2 linked regions of the Homo sapiens genome follow. The protein of the gene in region 2 interacts with the protein of the main gene of each other region in a biochemical or structural test. Each region holds a gene or a part of one and is shown on either strand. Other genes may lie near its edges.

Evidence for each region.
Region 1: the proteins of CITED1 (region 2) and TFAP2B form a complex in vitro, tested with the Homo sapiens proteins (one study listed by BioGRID).

What each region holds. Positions count from the first base shown.
Region 1 is NC_000006.12:50,821,125-50,828,870, reverse strand, and holds part of TFAP2B (transcription factor AP-2-beta), read right to left. Parts: intron 7,440-7,746; coding exon of another isoform or gene 7,394-7,439; intron 6,738-7,393; coding exon of another isoform or gene 6,711-6,737; intron 5,465-6,710; coding exon 5,006-5,464; intron 253-5,005; coding exon 192-252; intron 1-191.
Region 2 is NC_000023.11:72,302,339-72,310,166, forward strand, and holds the start of CITED1 (cbp/p300-interacting transactivator 1), read right to left. Parts: upstream 3,577-7,828; 5' UTR 3,487-3,576; intron 3,085-3,486; exon of another isoform or gene 2,977-3,084; coding exon of another isoform or gene 2,964-2,976; intron 597-2,963; coding exon of another isoform or gene 532-596; coding exon 472-531; intron 1-471. UniProt on the Homo sapiens protein: Transcriptional coactivator of the p300/CBP-mediated transcription complex. Enhances SMAD-mediated transcription by strengthening the functional link between the DNA-binding SMAD transcription factors and the p300/CBP transcription coactivator complex.

The sequences.
Region 1 (7,746 bases), on a different chromosome or scaffold from region 2:
TTTCATTCTCCCTTGCCCAACTTCCATCTTCCCAACATGCCCTTTCCCCTAATCTGACAGCCATTGTCCTATAATTGTGAACAAACATTTATGTCTTGTCAAATAATGAATTCCCCCAAAGTGAAAATTCATCATAAAGACGTTAATGCATGAGAGAACTTTGCTTACTTTTTGGGGGGAATTATCCATACCTTTTTTAATGACAGACTGGTCCAATAGATTCATGCCGCTGTTATTGGCATCTTCAACTGACTGTGAATATAAAAACATCACTATTCAAATTGACAGGATATTAAAGAATTGCACACATAAATCATGTTATTCCAAACTGGAGTTTCTGTTATTTCCATTTATATTAATTCACAAAGGGCTGTTTTATTATTATTATTACCTCCAAATAGACATAGAAATGAAATTTACTCAAATTATAAATTTTTCCAATGGAAGAAGTGGAGAAAGAAAACTTTGAGAGACATCTGGGATGCAACATTGGTTTAGTTATTATATAAAACATAGATATTAGACAGATAAACCTTTATATTATTTGCTCTTATGAATTGTAAAAATTTGGCAACAGCTGACAGATTTTCACCAATATTAGTAAGAGCAATTTGTGTTTTCCATTCTATCCCAGTGCATCTTAACCCCAGAGCCATTTTACAAATACATAATAGTTTACATTATGGGATTTTAATTAAAGTCTGAGCAATTTGGAATGGAATGCAAACAGCAACACATAGGAACATGTTTGCAAGCCTCTAGGACTGCACACCCATTACAGCCCATACACGTTCCTGTAAACTATGAGCTTCTTGCTGCACAATGACAGTCTCTTGGAGGAACCTTCACAATTTACCCTCCCTCCCAGTCCTGCTGATGCTGCTTCCCAGCAAGGAGCACACCTGTTAGGAAGGCAGTAACTACAGACAAGCAGACACACACAAAGGTCTAGATCCTCCCAGTCAGCACCTAGGTAATCGCAAGGAATGTTCATCTTCTGTGCCACAGTTTCATTCCAGAGAAGGAAAGTTTCAACTCTGAGCACTGGTAGCACTTCTGAGAGGAAATAGCTGTTGGAGCAAGTTTCTTACTGTCAGAATACACATGAACAGTTCTGGCTGTGCATCCCAGGGCGTCCAAAAGCAGTAGATTCCCTTTCTCTCCCTACCAAGAAAATAAATGCTAGGTCTTTCTAAAATCTACAACTACTTTCTTGACCCTTCAAAACCTAAGTTGGGACCAAATTGTTACCCACTTTATAGAGAAGTAAAAAGCAAAGGGCTTGAGAGTGAGGAGCTGTTTTCACAGCACTCACACCGACTCATGCTGCATCCTCACAGTGTGAGTTCATCACAAGAAAAAGACTGTCTACCCCAAACAAGCAAAACTTTAGAAATGAGATGATCTAATCGTACAGGGGGCATGTTAATTTGTTTCTTTTCATTTTTAATAGTCACTCTTTTGTTCTCAGAAAAGTGAGCAAAATTGTTATTCTCCATAGGAATTGTTATCCTTGCTGCAACATGCCATGCACATCTTAGGAAATAGTAAAAAGGTGTTTTAAAAATATTTCATGTAACTTGTTCATAACTCCTCAGGGGACCCTGCCACACACAAACACACACGATTCACACCTTTCTATGATCATGTGTATACAGTGACAATGTGTCCAGGCAGGACAGAAATATTCTCCTGTGCCTTGGGCAGCCAGACCCTGACTTACACTGGCCTGGACCCGGGAGCCCTCACACCTTACCCTCACTCTTGTACGTAAATATGTATAAACGCCTCATCAGCGACGTGGGGTAGTTGTGGTAGTTAATGAGAAGGCTCTTGTCTGATTTTCTATCTAATTACGGCCGCCTGCTGGGTTTTTGTACAGGATATTCACGCAGCATGCTGGCGCTTAATCGTCACAGGGAGGATCGTAAAGATTTAATTAGGACTGCATGCGGAAGCGCAGAAAAACAACTCAGACTCGTAATTACTAGACTTCTTTAGTTAAAAGTGATACCAGGGGTTGCTTTAAGACACTCGGGTGTGTTTGAGTGTGTGTATGTGTTTGGGGGGAGTTGGCTTAACATCCTTATATGTTTATATTCATGGGTGGTAGAGGTGATGGGAGGTAAGAGAGCAAAGGTGGGAAGAAGAAAAGAGGTGTACATGACAACTAAACAAATCCCAAACTAGGTGTCCTTTCACTCCCTCTGTCTCTCTCTCTGTAGGTGTTTTCCTGAGTTTTTAACACTTGTAGCCCCCTCCCCAACTAGACACACACACACACGCGCGCGCGCGCGCGCGCGCTCATGCACAATGGGTGAAATGTAGCATACCCAGAACCCAAACAGCGATTTGCTAGTTTAATAGCCCCTGTGAGTAAATTGAAATAGAAATTGACAGGGTTTTATAGTTTCATTTAAAAAAATATTAGAAGCATTTGGTGAATTAGCTCTCCTCTTTCTCTTCTCTCATGGTGGGGGCTGTGGCCCTGAGTGTGGTGCATCTGGGTCACACAACAAAACCCTCGACCCATAGGCAGGGCAGCACCCTCAGTGTCTGCCAGCTCCCTGGCTCAAGGGGATCTGGAACACACACGAGGTCCTTGAGATCGGAACAAGTGACTTTAAGGTCCAGGCCTAGGCACTCTCTGGTCCTTTTAAAGACTGGACCAGTGCAGGCCCTTTTAAAGACTGGACCAGTGCAGGCCACCCATTCGATAGCTGTAGGGAGAGCGTTGAAATCCCAACCTGCTTGTGTAACTTTAGCCCCCGCACCCCAGCTTCCTAACTCGGAAGTGGATCCTTCTGTGTTGAGCAGATGATTGGAAGCCTTCGGATTCGAGGCTGTGGTCCTGGAAACATAACCCCTGGTCTTTGTCACCTGCCCTGCATCAGTCAACTTCACCCTGGCCTTGGGAGGTCTGTCATCACCGCGGAGGCAGAGACCGTCCCTGTCTTTGCTGTTTCCCTCTAGGGACAGGAGCAGGGTGTGTCCCTTGCACTATAGGGGTCGTCCCAAGAAGGTCCCGTGGGCCTCCCGGCAGGTGACGAAATGAGATAAAGCAGGGGAGGAACAGGGTGGGGGTTGGGTGAGTGGAGAGCCTGCAAGTGGCTCCGGTGTGCTGCCTGCTGCTTTTCTCCTTTCAGCTCTCTACCTCTGTGGTCTGTATTCCCGACAGCAACAACTTGGCCCCGAGGTGCTCCGTTCACATAAACACTAAATCCTTTCCGACGCTTTGACAAGACTATTCTCCCAAATGTGCACTGATCTGGCCCTGTTTTTCTCTCAGACTTTGAATTTCACCAAACACAAAAAGACCTCTCTCAATTATTTCTTTAAAAACATTTAACTAAAGAAAACTGCTCCTTCTTTTGGGGGAAAAATTTCTGAGTTCCTTCGCTAGAGTCACTTGGCCTGTAGGGTGGTGGTAACAGGGCCGGCATTAGCATCATCAACAGTAATGGTGATGAGTTGATCCACTTTCATTATCCAGCACTTTGAACCATACTCAGAAAGGTTAATTTAAAAACTTTTCCCCTCGAGACACATATTACCCCAATGCATTAAAAAAAAAACTATTAAATACTTCCTTTTTCATATGATATTCAGAAATGAGCAATATCTCTAGCCAGGAACAGTCAAGCTCAGTTAAATCAACAAAACCATCATCACTCTTATTACTATCAGTAAATCCAGGCACAAATCAGGTAATTCCGTCTTTTTTAAAAAAATAAATAACTGAATTTCTTTTAAAACAATAAACAATCATAGACCACACACAGACAGCATTTGATGCTGTCACCACATTTTAACTGTTTAAAACTATTTTTTTTCAGCAAGGTACAGAAGAATGACTCTTGCACCCTCTTCTCTTTCCCATTTTATTTTCCTTTGCTTCAGAGGTATGTCAAAGGATGCATAATAAATACAACTATGCCAATGAAACTGAAGTGTCAATTACATACCTGTAAACTATATTTATCTTTTCTGCCAACTATTTAACTTAGGGTGAAAAAGCAGACCTGCTCAGAATCACCCAAACAGTTTTTAGGAATCATTTCTTTGATGTTTCTTTGTTTAGTTTAACCAAGTATTCTCAACCAAATCAGGCTCCATTGTGTAGACTGCAGATGGGATAGTGGGTGGGTAGGGGGAGTGTTTTGAGCCTTTTGTTTTAAGAAATAAACACGTGATGCCTCTCAACTGGGATGATGGCAGTGGGGAGAGAAGAGTGTTAATATAGGCGGAGGCCAGGAGAGGGAGGTGGAGAATATTACACTACAGTCACTTAATGAACCAAAAAGTGAAAAGAATTTCCAAAATGGTATCTACCATCATGGACTCCTGAATTATGGCGTTCTGAGTTTCTCCTTCACATATATTCTATTTCTCAGATGAGGACTGCAACTATCTCTTGGAAAAAAGCTCTGTGGCTTATGAGACATTCAAAGCAAGACCTGGCTTAGATGATCAGAGCTCATTGTCATGCTTAGCAAAATCTTTGCAAATTCAGCAGCAACCTCTGGAGCATACAGAGGCCCCTGGAACTTCATTCTGAAGCTCTAGCCTCTAGGCAGCCAGGTCTTCACCTGCCAAGTCAGCAGGACAGCCCCACTATGGGGTGTGTGTGTTGGTAAAGAAGGGGTACCAAGCTGGCTTCCACAAAGCACTAGAGAATATGCAGGAGATGGTAGCTGAGGCAGGACAAAAGCATTCGCCTTTATTCTAATAATCTTAAGGTATCAAAGCAAATACATATTTTTCTTCTTCAAGATTTAATTTCTCGTGGTTTGGATGATCATAATTAGACCTCTGGAAATCGCCACTATAGAGCCATACATACAGACACACATAAACAGTTCTATATGACTGTCTAGTCCTGTTCTAAACATGGGAACAAACTCCCCAAAAAGAGACAGAGCTGCCCTCTCCTGACCTCCCCCCCTCCAGAAGCATTCCTTATTCGTGGTCTTTTTTGTTTGTTTGTTTGTTTGTTTGTGGTTACCTGGACGTCTTCCATTCCGGGATGGCCGAGGCCGTGCAGCGAGAGGCTGTCACCCATGCCCGCGTCCAGGCCGTGGTGCGCCGAATGCAGCAGCACGTCCGGCCGGCGGACCGAGTGGTAGTCCCTCCGGGGGTCAAGGCCCGAGAGCTGGGGCAAGGCGGCCCGAGGCTGGGGCAGGAGAGAGCCGGCTTCCGAACCCACTTCTTGCCGCTGCCGTTGCCCCCAGGGATGTTGCTGGGGCTGGTGCAGTGGGTTCAGGGAGTAGGGGTCGTTGACGTGGGAGTAGGGGTCCTGGCTCTGGTGGTAGGGGAGCGGCTGGTAGGGGGGTGGGAAGTAGGGCGGCTGGAAGTCCGACGACGGGGTGTGGGACAGCGGCGGGGCGCTCGAGTAGGGTCCTTGGGACACCGAGCCCAGCTGGGAGAGCCGCGAGCTGTGGCTCGGGACACCATCGTGCCGGTCCTGGGAGCGGAGAGAGGAAGGGGAAGAGAGCCAGAGAAGGAGACAGAGAAAGAGAGATAGAGGCAGAGAGAGACAGAGAGTACAGAGAGGAAGAAAAAAAATACAAGTGACAAATGGAGAAGCCCGGCTTTTGTACGCTCTTCCCGGGACAAGGGAAGCAAGGATCTGAAACTTAGACCCCCAAGTTGACTCAGAGGGCCACATGATTTCAGCAATTTCAAACCCCAGGCTTGGGGAGAAAATGGGAAAGGAATCACCCACTTAACTATAACATTTTAGCCGCTTTTTGGGGAGTGCAAAGCAGGCAAAAGGCAGGGGTACAGGAACAGTGTGTATGGAGGGAGATTCTAAATGCCTTAATTAAAATTGTAGGAGTCTTACATATGGTGTTTGCTCCTCTGGGTGTTTTTAACTACTTTTTTCTAACTCTTCCAGAGGTACAAATCACAACAAATAAAACTTCATAGTATTTGCTGTGCTGCTCCCCCTGATTAAAAACCAACTTCTGCCTTCGCTGGAAATGCAGCTGGCTGATTAGGAGGAGCTTTCCACACAACCTGATCATTCCAAGAGCTCCAAGGAATCCACCTGGTCTGAGTTCCCAGTCACTCCTCCCTCTCCAGGAGAAATTAAATAACTTAAATAGTGTTTCATTGAAATGGATCTCATTCGAAATCATATCCTAAGCCAATGATGAATTAAGTTGAGTTGTGGTTCATAGGAGTTATTTCTAAGACTGTTTTTCTATATCTAATGCTGTTATACTCAGGATGTGAAAATGAAGGAACTAAAGTTGGGGTGGGGGGAAATAAAAGCCCAGACAACTTATTCCTGGTCCTATCTGGAGTGTGAACTAAGTGAAAGAAGAAGGGGGAGGTGTGTATATGAGGGAGGTGGACTTTGTTTCTCCCTCTCTTCTCTGGAAACATCATGGTAAACTCCCCATGGTTCTTTTTGCAGAAATAGTCACCTAAATTTCCAAACAGCAATGGCAAATAAAAAGTTTTTCTTTTCGGCCTCTCCCCTCCCAGCTGACTCATGGAGCTCAGACGGAGAACACACAATGCAGAGAGAAGCAGCTGCAGCCTCGTCCAATTATGGTGCTAAATTACCAAGCCAAAGGCGCTCAAAGGAAGACAGAGAGAGACAGAGAGTGTGAGACACACACACACACAGAGACGCAGAGACAGAGAGACAGTGAGAGGAGGGAGCATGCAATTCTGGTAACACGTGAATCCAAACTCACCATGGATGAATAGGTGTGGACTAACATCTGGAAAAAAAAGCCTGGTTACTGCTCAAAATCAAACAATGATTAAAAAAAAAATCAAGGAGTCCAGCAGAGAAGCGAGCTGGACACAGGAGCTGAGCTTGATGTGTTTCCAGGACAAGCCATCAAAAAAAAAAAAAAAAAATTACACCCGCCCCCCACCCCAACAAGATTGGCGATGCCTGTCACACACAGACAGAACTATTCATCTGTCTCTTTGCTGTCTTTTTGGCCTCTTTTCTTCTGCCGTTCTTCGGGGCTCCAGATGCAGTCCTCTTTCACCCGAAGCTGGGCTCAGACTGCTCGGCCGCCCCTTCCTCCCTCCGCTTGCCTACACCGCCTCATAATAATTGATATTCATGACTATTAATATTACACGAGTACTTTAAAGGGAGAATAGAGGACAAATGGAGCGTGAAGCAGCAGCGAGCGCAGAGCTCCCCTACTATTGTAAATGACGTTCATTCAGTGGAGAATTACTAGATGTAATCAGACGAGGGGGCTGGCAAAGGCAGACTGGGGAAAAAGTTTAGCAGGAAAGAGGCAGAACTTCAATTAACTGTGCCGGGGACACGAGTAAAGCAGCCCCTGCTCCTTTGGATAAGGCAGTGAGGGAGAACAGTGCTGGGAGGTTGTATAGAATGGAGGTGTCCTCCTACCTGGAGAGAGACTTCCCTAATCCGGAGGACTTGGTCGCCTTGGGTGCTTTGTGTGAGGATTACAAAAACAAAATAAAAAGGGTTGCTTCATCATTTGGAGGCGAGAGAAAGGCAAATTGGTGGGCCTGGTTATTTACAGTGACTTTTGCAGACTTTTGCTAAATGTGGAAGATTATGCTCATTTGTTAAAGGACAGAAGCGAGATGGAGGCTTTTCATTCCTGTGCAGCCTTTTCCTGTTTAGTGCTCACATAGTTTGCGATTTTTACCTCAATTTAAAACATACGCCATCAATCTTCAAATACACTAAACTTATCCTTTCCAGGCAAAGCCAGGGGCAACAGAAAACCTTTT
Region 2 (7,828 bases):
TGGGACTAGAGGTGGAGAGGTAGCAAGACGACCCCCTTGAAAATTAGGCTCCCACCTCAAGCATCCTTTTGCTGCCATGGCTCTGAGCACTGAGGCCAGAGCCCAGTTACAGTGCTGGAGCACCTGCCATCCTAAGTGGGTTCACTGCTTTCAGCTCCTTCCCCATAGCCTCCACCTCACCATCCTAAAAAGGGCACCTCCTGTCCCTCTTCTCAGCCTCACTTTAGTCTCTTCAACAGAGTGGTTTTGCTCCTACTCAATTTCTCTGCTCCCTTCCCTGCCATCTTTCAACACCCCTAGTGGGTTCAATCTGACCACAATTTAGGCAGAAGCTGTTCTCATTCTCCCCAGAGATAGTCCTGTTGTCTCCTCTCTGCTCAAGGACACTGGGTAATGCACCTAGGAGGGCCTGGCCCATGACCCCGGAAAATTTGTCTTTCCCTGCCTCATCTGTAAAATGGCAAAAATTACCTCCTTCGCAGGTGAGGTGCCACCCTTGACATCAAGTGCAGGCCTCGACGTTGTTGGCATTTCAGAGCCTTGGCAGAAGTTGGATAAATTGGCGGGAAGTGATGCTGCCAGCTGGAGCTGTTGTGCTGCAAGTGAGGAAGAAGCAGTGGTAAGGGCAAAAGGCTTCACTGACCAACAAAGCACTAGCAAAGCCCAAAGCAGGGCAATGCCACGCAGCTATGAGGCAAGGATGGTGACTGAGTTAGAATCAAGACCAGAGATCACCCGAGCACAGGGAGGAGATCAAGCTGGAACTTTTGCCTGAGGCAGGAAAGGTGCTTGATTCGGCCAGGTACTGCCCAGGCAGCCACCTACCCATATCACCAAGATGGGACATACTGCTTCCTCATGCAAGTGACTTCACAGTCCCAAGGTGTATGTGTGGGGGTGAGGGTGGCACTGTTCCTGGTTCAGAGGACAGGAATGTCCCTGAGTAAGCAACATATTGTCTCAATGGGCTACTAGCATCCAGGCTGGAGAGTTGGGGCCTCCACTGGGACTGGGAGAATGTGAGAAGAAGTCAGGGCAAGGAAGACCTAGAAAGCTAGAGGCTGCAGCACAGGGAAATAACAAGTCTCTAGCGCAAATGTCATGGAGCTCCAAAGCATGACCTTGGGCATGCCTGTGAGAAGCCAGGCTGATTAGGGTGGTCTGGGGGCTCTGAGGCAGCTGGAGCCAGAGAAGCTAGGAATGTGTCACTTTCCTCCATGTCTCAAGCCCCCTCCAAGACAGCCCCAGCATTGGGCTTTCCTAGGATGCCTACCCCAGAAACCTGAGTCCAGCCATTCCCATCTATAGTGACAAGTGAGGCACAGAGATTCAATGCCTTTTTAGTCAGGTAGCAGCGGTTCTGGGAGCAGAATCTAGCACCCCTATGGCCACATGCCTCACCTGACCACTGGCTAAGTCATCATACCTAGCTGGATTCAAAAGGCTTCCAAAGAAGTGATTTCCTGGCTCAAGTGCCAAAGGATAAGGGAATGAAGGCAAAAGAATACCTCCAAACCAGAAAATAAACAAACCTCTGAAAATCTCAACTTATTTTCCTGGAGGCCTGTTTACAAAGAAGAAAAAAATGTCCCATAGCTAGGCACAGTAGCACCCTCCTGTAGTCTCAGCTACTCAGGAAGCTGAGGTGGGAGGATCACCTGAGCCCTGGAGTTTGATACCAGGCTGGGCAACATAGCGGGACCCTATCTCTTTAAAAAAAAAAAGCCCCATATATTCTAGCTTTCATGATCAATTAGAGATGTAGAATTTCATATTTATAAATACCTCTTGGTCCAAAGAATCTTGAGGACCTTAAAAAGAGTCTCTAATCTTTCCAAGGAGGCTAGAATTCTCCGTGACACTCTCCACTCCGCAGCGGTCATTAAGAATCTGCTCAGACACTTCTAGAAAGTGGCCACTTACTACCTCTCTGTATCATCTTTGCATTGCTTACTTGGGTGGATGGGGGTAGGGGAGGGAAAAAATAGAGAAAGGGGTAAACATTTTTTTAAAAACATGAGGAAAAAATATCAGCTGTTGGGTCCCGCATCATTGCTTGATTGAAGCCCTGCTCCTTCTCTGAGGCAACCGTAGAAAAATATTTCAAAAGCAAGTGATCACCAGACAAGAAGTCTAACACATGTCGTCTTCAAGAGCCCTAGCACAATCAGTATCAGACAATTTTCCTGTCCTAAGAAAAATGTCTGGGGGCCCTGTCCATCTTTTCCTGTTCCTATCCAGCCTTCCCTCTCCTTTTTGCCGCTTGGTACCCGAATGTACAAAACGAAGAAAAAACAACAGGAGCAGCAGCAACAACAGCAAAACCAAAAGAGAAACATTAGAAAAATCAAAAGAGAGAACGAGCAAAAAAACTCTCTCTATTCTGATATCAGTTCGTGGGGGAAGACCATTTTACCGCGCCTCCCTCTTCAATCTGGGAGCTCCCCCAGAAGAGGCCCTGTGTCCATTCAGATCTTCTGCCTTCCATTACTGACCCACCACCCACCCTGACCCCAGCCTGGGTCTGCGCTCAATAGGCGCTCAGTAAGTGTTGTTGAATGCGTCTGAAGAAGCAATCGCATTTCCATCGGCATCCCTGGCTCTGCTTCCCCGGCTTTCTGCCCTCCTCCACCACCCTCTAGCCCGTTCGTGGGCAAAACTTGGCAACGCGGAAACGTCCCAGCCCGCTCTCCAAGCCGCGAGCTGACCACTGCGAAACGGCTGCGACAGGCGGCTGGGAAACCTAGAGCAACAAGTGCCTTCTCGCCGGCTGATGCCTGGCGGCCCCCCGGCCACCAGTTCCCAGTCCCGCTGCCCGCTCTTCGCTTCAGGCCTTCCCTTGGGCGAGCAGCCCCCTCCCGCCTAGACAGGGGTGGGAAGGGGAGAGGGAAAAGAGAAGGGAGAGGCAGGTGGGGGCCTCATCTTTAACCTGTTGGGGGACCAAAAGTTAAAATGGCACCAACCGGATGGTTCCATCTCGATTGCTATTTTCTCACTCAGAAGGAGAAATTTAAAAATCCAAACAGCACTGCGGCTTGGCTTGGACGCGCTCTAACCAGACCAGTCAGTTTCGCCACCTGAAAACTAAAGGCCCGTTGTTTGCGGACAGCTCGGCTGCCCTCCTCGCCGCATCCCAGATGGAGCCGCGGAACCGGGGGCGGCCGGGAGCATCCCTTGCACGGCGGGCGCGTGCACCCAGGCCACCGGGGCCCTGAGCGTCCGTTCCCGCAAGTGCTGTATCAGGAACTGATCTTAGAGACAGGATGGACAGGCAGGAAGGGGCACGGGGTGTCGGCCTCCGCGGCGAGTCCGCACTCCGGCGCCGGCTGCTGCCACTCTCGCGCCTGATCAACACTTACTGAGCGCCCGCTGAGCATCCGACGCGGCAGCAGGCTGAGCCTACCCCCTAGCCAAGCCGCCTGCGGTCAGTGCTAAAACCCCGCTAGGAGAAGAGTGAGAGAGGCTCGGAGAGGTGCGGTAACTTGCCCAAGGTCACAGCGCTAGAAAGTGGCGGAGCCGGGATTCGCAGCCAGGTCTCTCTGACTCCAAGTCCGGTGCTCTGCGAAGCAGGGACTCGGCGCGCGGCTCGCCAGCCCGCGTTTATAGGGAGAGGGGTGTGCGCGTGGGTGTGTGTGTGTGGGCGTGTGTCGGGGGAGGGGAGGGCTGAGGTCGACTGGGCAGTAGAGGCAAGTTGCCCAAATTCGCTAACTTCCATCCCGCAATTCCGCTGAACTCGGCCCGAAAAGCCCCCTCTTGCCTCAATTCCCCGAAGTAAATCTGAGCTTTGTGCAGCTCCGGAGCCAGAGCGTCCAGATGCGGTCCGGGAGATTAGCAAAGTCGGTGGAAGCCAAGCTGGAGAAAGCGCGGGCGCAGGGAGAAAAGGTGCTGCCGTCTCCCCGGGAGAAGCGGGCACCCGGCCCCGCTGGCCGGCAGGGGGGCGCGCTGGCAAGCGAACCCGAGCGCTGGCGGGCGGGCGGGCGGGCGGCCCCTCGCCCCCAGCAGAGCAGCTTTCCAACAGAAAGCAAGTCTCCCCAGAACCCTCCGGCCCGCCTGGCGGCCGCCCACTCCCCATACCCGCTCCACGGGAGTCCTCGGCCCCGCCGCCCAGCCCGGCGCCCAGCCCGGCGGCCCGGCTTACCTCTGAGAAGCCGCCTGCCCTGGAGAGAGGGAAGCGCGGAGCTCGGTGAGCCGCAAGAGAGGCGGCGGAGCCCCCAGCCCCTGGCACGCACGCCGCCGCCACCGCTACCGCGAACCGGTCGCGCTCAGCGCCCGCGGCCGCGCCGTTGGCCACCCGACCCCGGGGCGCCTGGGAAAAGCCCGCACCGCGCCGCGCCGCCGCTGCACCGCACAGTGCCGCGCCAAGCAGCCCCTGACCGAGCTGGTGCCCGCCCGCCCGCCCGCAGCTTCGGCGCCGGACTCCGGGGCGGTGGCGGTGGCGGCCACCGCGCTCCCTTCCCGGCGCTGGGGACCCGGCTCTCAAGCCCCCATTGCCGCCCGGAGAGCCCTGACGCACACGCACACGGCAGCAGACTGGCCTCGGCTAGGAATCCCAGGAAGGACAGACCCTTTTTTTCCCTTTTTTTTTCTCCCCTCAATTTCCACGTCTTTATAACCGGCTTAGGGCATTATTAGCACATGTCCTGGCTCGTGGGCGAGTTGGTGGCAAAATCTGAACTGGATACTCACGGAGGGCCCGCGCGGGTGCTGTGCCGTCCGCTGCTCTCTTCCTCCTCACCGAGAACTGCCCCTCGCCGGCGGACTACAAGAGGGCAGCCGGGCAGAGCGAGCTTCCTCTCGGCAGCTCAGCGGTGCCCCTTCTGCAGCTTTGCCGCCGGGCACATTTTTATAGCAGCGGCTGGCGTCTGTGGCCCTTTAAAGGCGCTCGAGCTGGTGCAGTCACCGCGGATCGTGTGAAAGCAAAGGGCCGGCTGGGGAACGGAGTCCACGCGGCCACGCGAGTCCGGCAGCCCTGTGGACCGGCCAAGGCTCCCGGGGTGGGGCTGGCGAGTCCGGGCTATGGGCAGCCCTCGCCCGGAGCCCTGGCCAGTGCCCGGCTTCTAAAGCTGTCGGGGGCCAGGGCCCGGGACACCGGCTCTCCCCACCGCCCTGCGTGGACTTGCCCAATAAATTCCACTTAGTAATTTCACTGAGGCAAAGGAGAGCCGTTAGTGTCTGTTTTCTGACCTAAATCTAGTCGGGGGCCAAAACGGGCTTCAGGGGTTTTGGGAGAGAGCTGTGGGCTCAAGGAGTGACCTGGAAGAGCGGGGCGCACACGAGACGGGGGAATGGTCATTAGTTTTCTGCAGGGCTGTCTTGGAGCCTGTCTGCCTTTTGGGGGGGCTGTACTATCTCATTCGTTGAAGAGCTGAGGCTGGGGGCTCCTTTTCCTCTTAAAGTCGCCAGATTCTGGGCAGAGTCGCATGGGGGGCCTATATGGCAGCGGTGGCTCTTCTAGAAGTTCTGAGCTGGGGTTGGGTTCGAGGGTTTCTGTTCTGTGGTCATCCAGGGCAGGAGGCTGGCAGGATGCGACCCGGAGAAATGCTACTCTCCCGGACCGTGGGGCCAGGTACAGCTCACTAGGCTCGCCGAAAAGCCAACAGTAGGCAACGGGGTACGAAGAGCTTGCCCCAGGGTTCGCGGAGATTCCTCCTGCCTTCCCACGATGTCAGGTTGTTTTATTGTAACTACATAATCATTCCCGTCTAGCAAGAATAACGTTTTGCATTTGGAGTTCGTCTTTCTTAGGTAGAGATGTTGTCTTACAAATCCTTACTGGAAAGAGGTCTGGGTCTTCTCCTTCACCTCAATTCGGATTCTTTGTGGCCAAGAAATTCCCACCTTACCACTTACAGGGAGGCCATCGGGATTACCCCTCTGTCACCCCCCCACCCCGCCCCGGCCCCGCCGCTCTTTTTTTGCTGCCTTTCAGCAACAGCGACTCAGTTTACACTGTTTATAAAACATACTCTTTAAGAAAAGGTCCTGATGTTAAAAAAGGGGGGGAGGGAATGTCACGAAGTCATTTTCACTATGTATGTGTTCTGTCTTCTTAATTGGATTTGAAGACCTGAAGTTCTCTTTTTCTTTTCTTTTTCTTTTTTTAGTAGCCCCAAGTGCCCTGCATTTGCTCTTCTAACAAAGTTCTGTTTGTTGACGGACTGACCGGCTTACCGACACAAAGATGGGAAGCAAATGGAGAGACGGATCAAGGCCCTTCCTCGGCATCTGGAGGAAGCTTGGGCGAGTGTCTTGGTCGCCAGGTAAACCCATTCTCCAGCCCTCAAGGCTGCCTTGCACAGCTCCAGTCTTTTCACTTACCCTGTCCCAACACAAACCCCGGTAGCATCCACACCCCACACATCTTCGCTGCACTTTCTCACTTTGCTTGCCAGATTGTGGGCCCTGCCTAGTCTCCCTCTGATAAAAGGCGGGATCTGTCGGCACCCTAAAGCCTTACTGCAAACCGCGTGTGAAATACACTCTCAAGTTCTCTTGGTGTTTGCCTGGGATGAAAAAAAATGTTTCTGCGAAAACTAAGTGGTGGAGAATGAGCGACTCTAGGCTTTCGAATTGCATGTTACTAATTTGAACCCCTGACCCACCCTCCCCGTCAGCCCCGGCTTGGCTCGGGAGCAGGTCTGGCAACAGCGGCAGCTTCTCCGCTGCAGGCTCCGGATCCGGGAGGTGTGGATCCGCCCTCCATCTATTGGATGGCTCCCAGGCCAATTGTTAGAAAGAGGCATATGTTCATCTCGGCTTCTGGAGTGTCTCCGGAGCAGTTGCTCAACAGCCAGCCCCCTCCCCCATCCGGACCATTGAAGGGCAGAAAAAGGAGCGCCCTCCACCACATTTCTCTGTGCCCACATGCCAGAAAGGGTCTCCCCCCTGGTGACTTCCTGTCATCTCCACTGCTTACCTCCTGGGGAGCAGGAACGAGAGGGGCTTCAAGCACTCAGCTTTGAAGCACAAAAGCCACCCCTTTCCTTTTTGGGGAGATGGGAGAGGAGGTTAGTTGCAGAGGCTGAGAGGGAGCAAAGGAGACATTTGCATTTCTCGGCAAAAATGCTCTGATCACTGACTTCCCCGTTGGCTCCAGCAGAGCTCAGAGCTCTCCGCTGAACTCTTATCTCCAACTTGGCAACTAGACCGCGAGCTTGCGAAGCAAGGAGAGGACAGGGATGGTCACCTACCGAGAACCTCTGTGCTCCAGCGCTGGGCCTGGCATGTTCCCCATCCATCATCTCATTTAATTCCCAGGACAGCCCTTTGAGGTAGGGTTTACCAAAGGTGAATGAAACAGAGCCTCGGGAAATTGCCCAAGTTCACATAGCCACGTGGCTGAGTGTTTGAATCTGGATCAGGCTGTCTGCAAAGTTTTTACCCTCAGCCCTAATCCCCGCTGCCTAGGAGGGTAAGGAGGCTGTCTAGAGTGCAGGTTCAGGGGTCAGTAGGCCTGGGTTTAAATTCCTACTTTGCCATTTGTTAGCGGTGAAGTCTTAGGCCAATGGCTTCATGCTTTGGTCTTCAATTTTCCCATCTGTTAAATGGGGATAACAATGGTACCTAATCTGTGGGGGTTGCTTAGCCTGATTGGTGCCCGCAGTGTAGTAAATGGCCAATAAATGCTGTTATCGTACTGGACCTTCTGATTATTTTCCTTTTGCCTCCCGTCCCTGCCTCAGCTCACACACTTCAGATTCAGTAATACTTGCTGAATGATTAATTTTAAAACCAGACTGAGAGGGGATGAAGGAGGTCTATAAACTCAGGGAGGAGAGAGAGAGAGAAAAATGCAGATTTCTTCTTAAAATCCCACCCTCCAGAACCA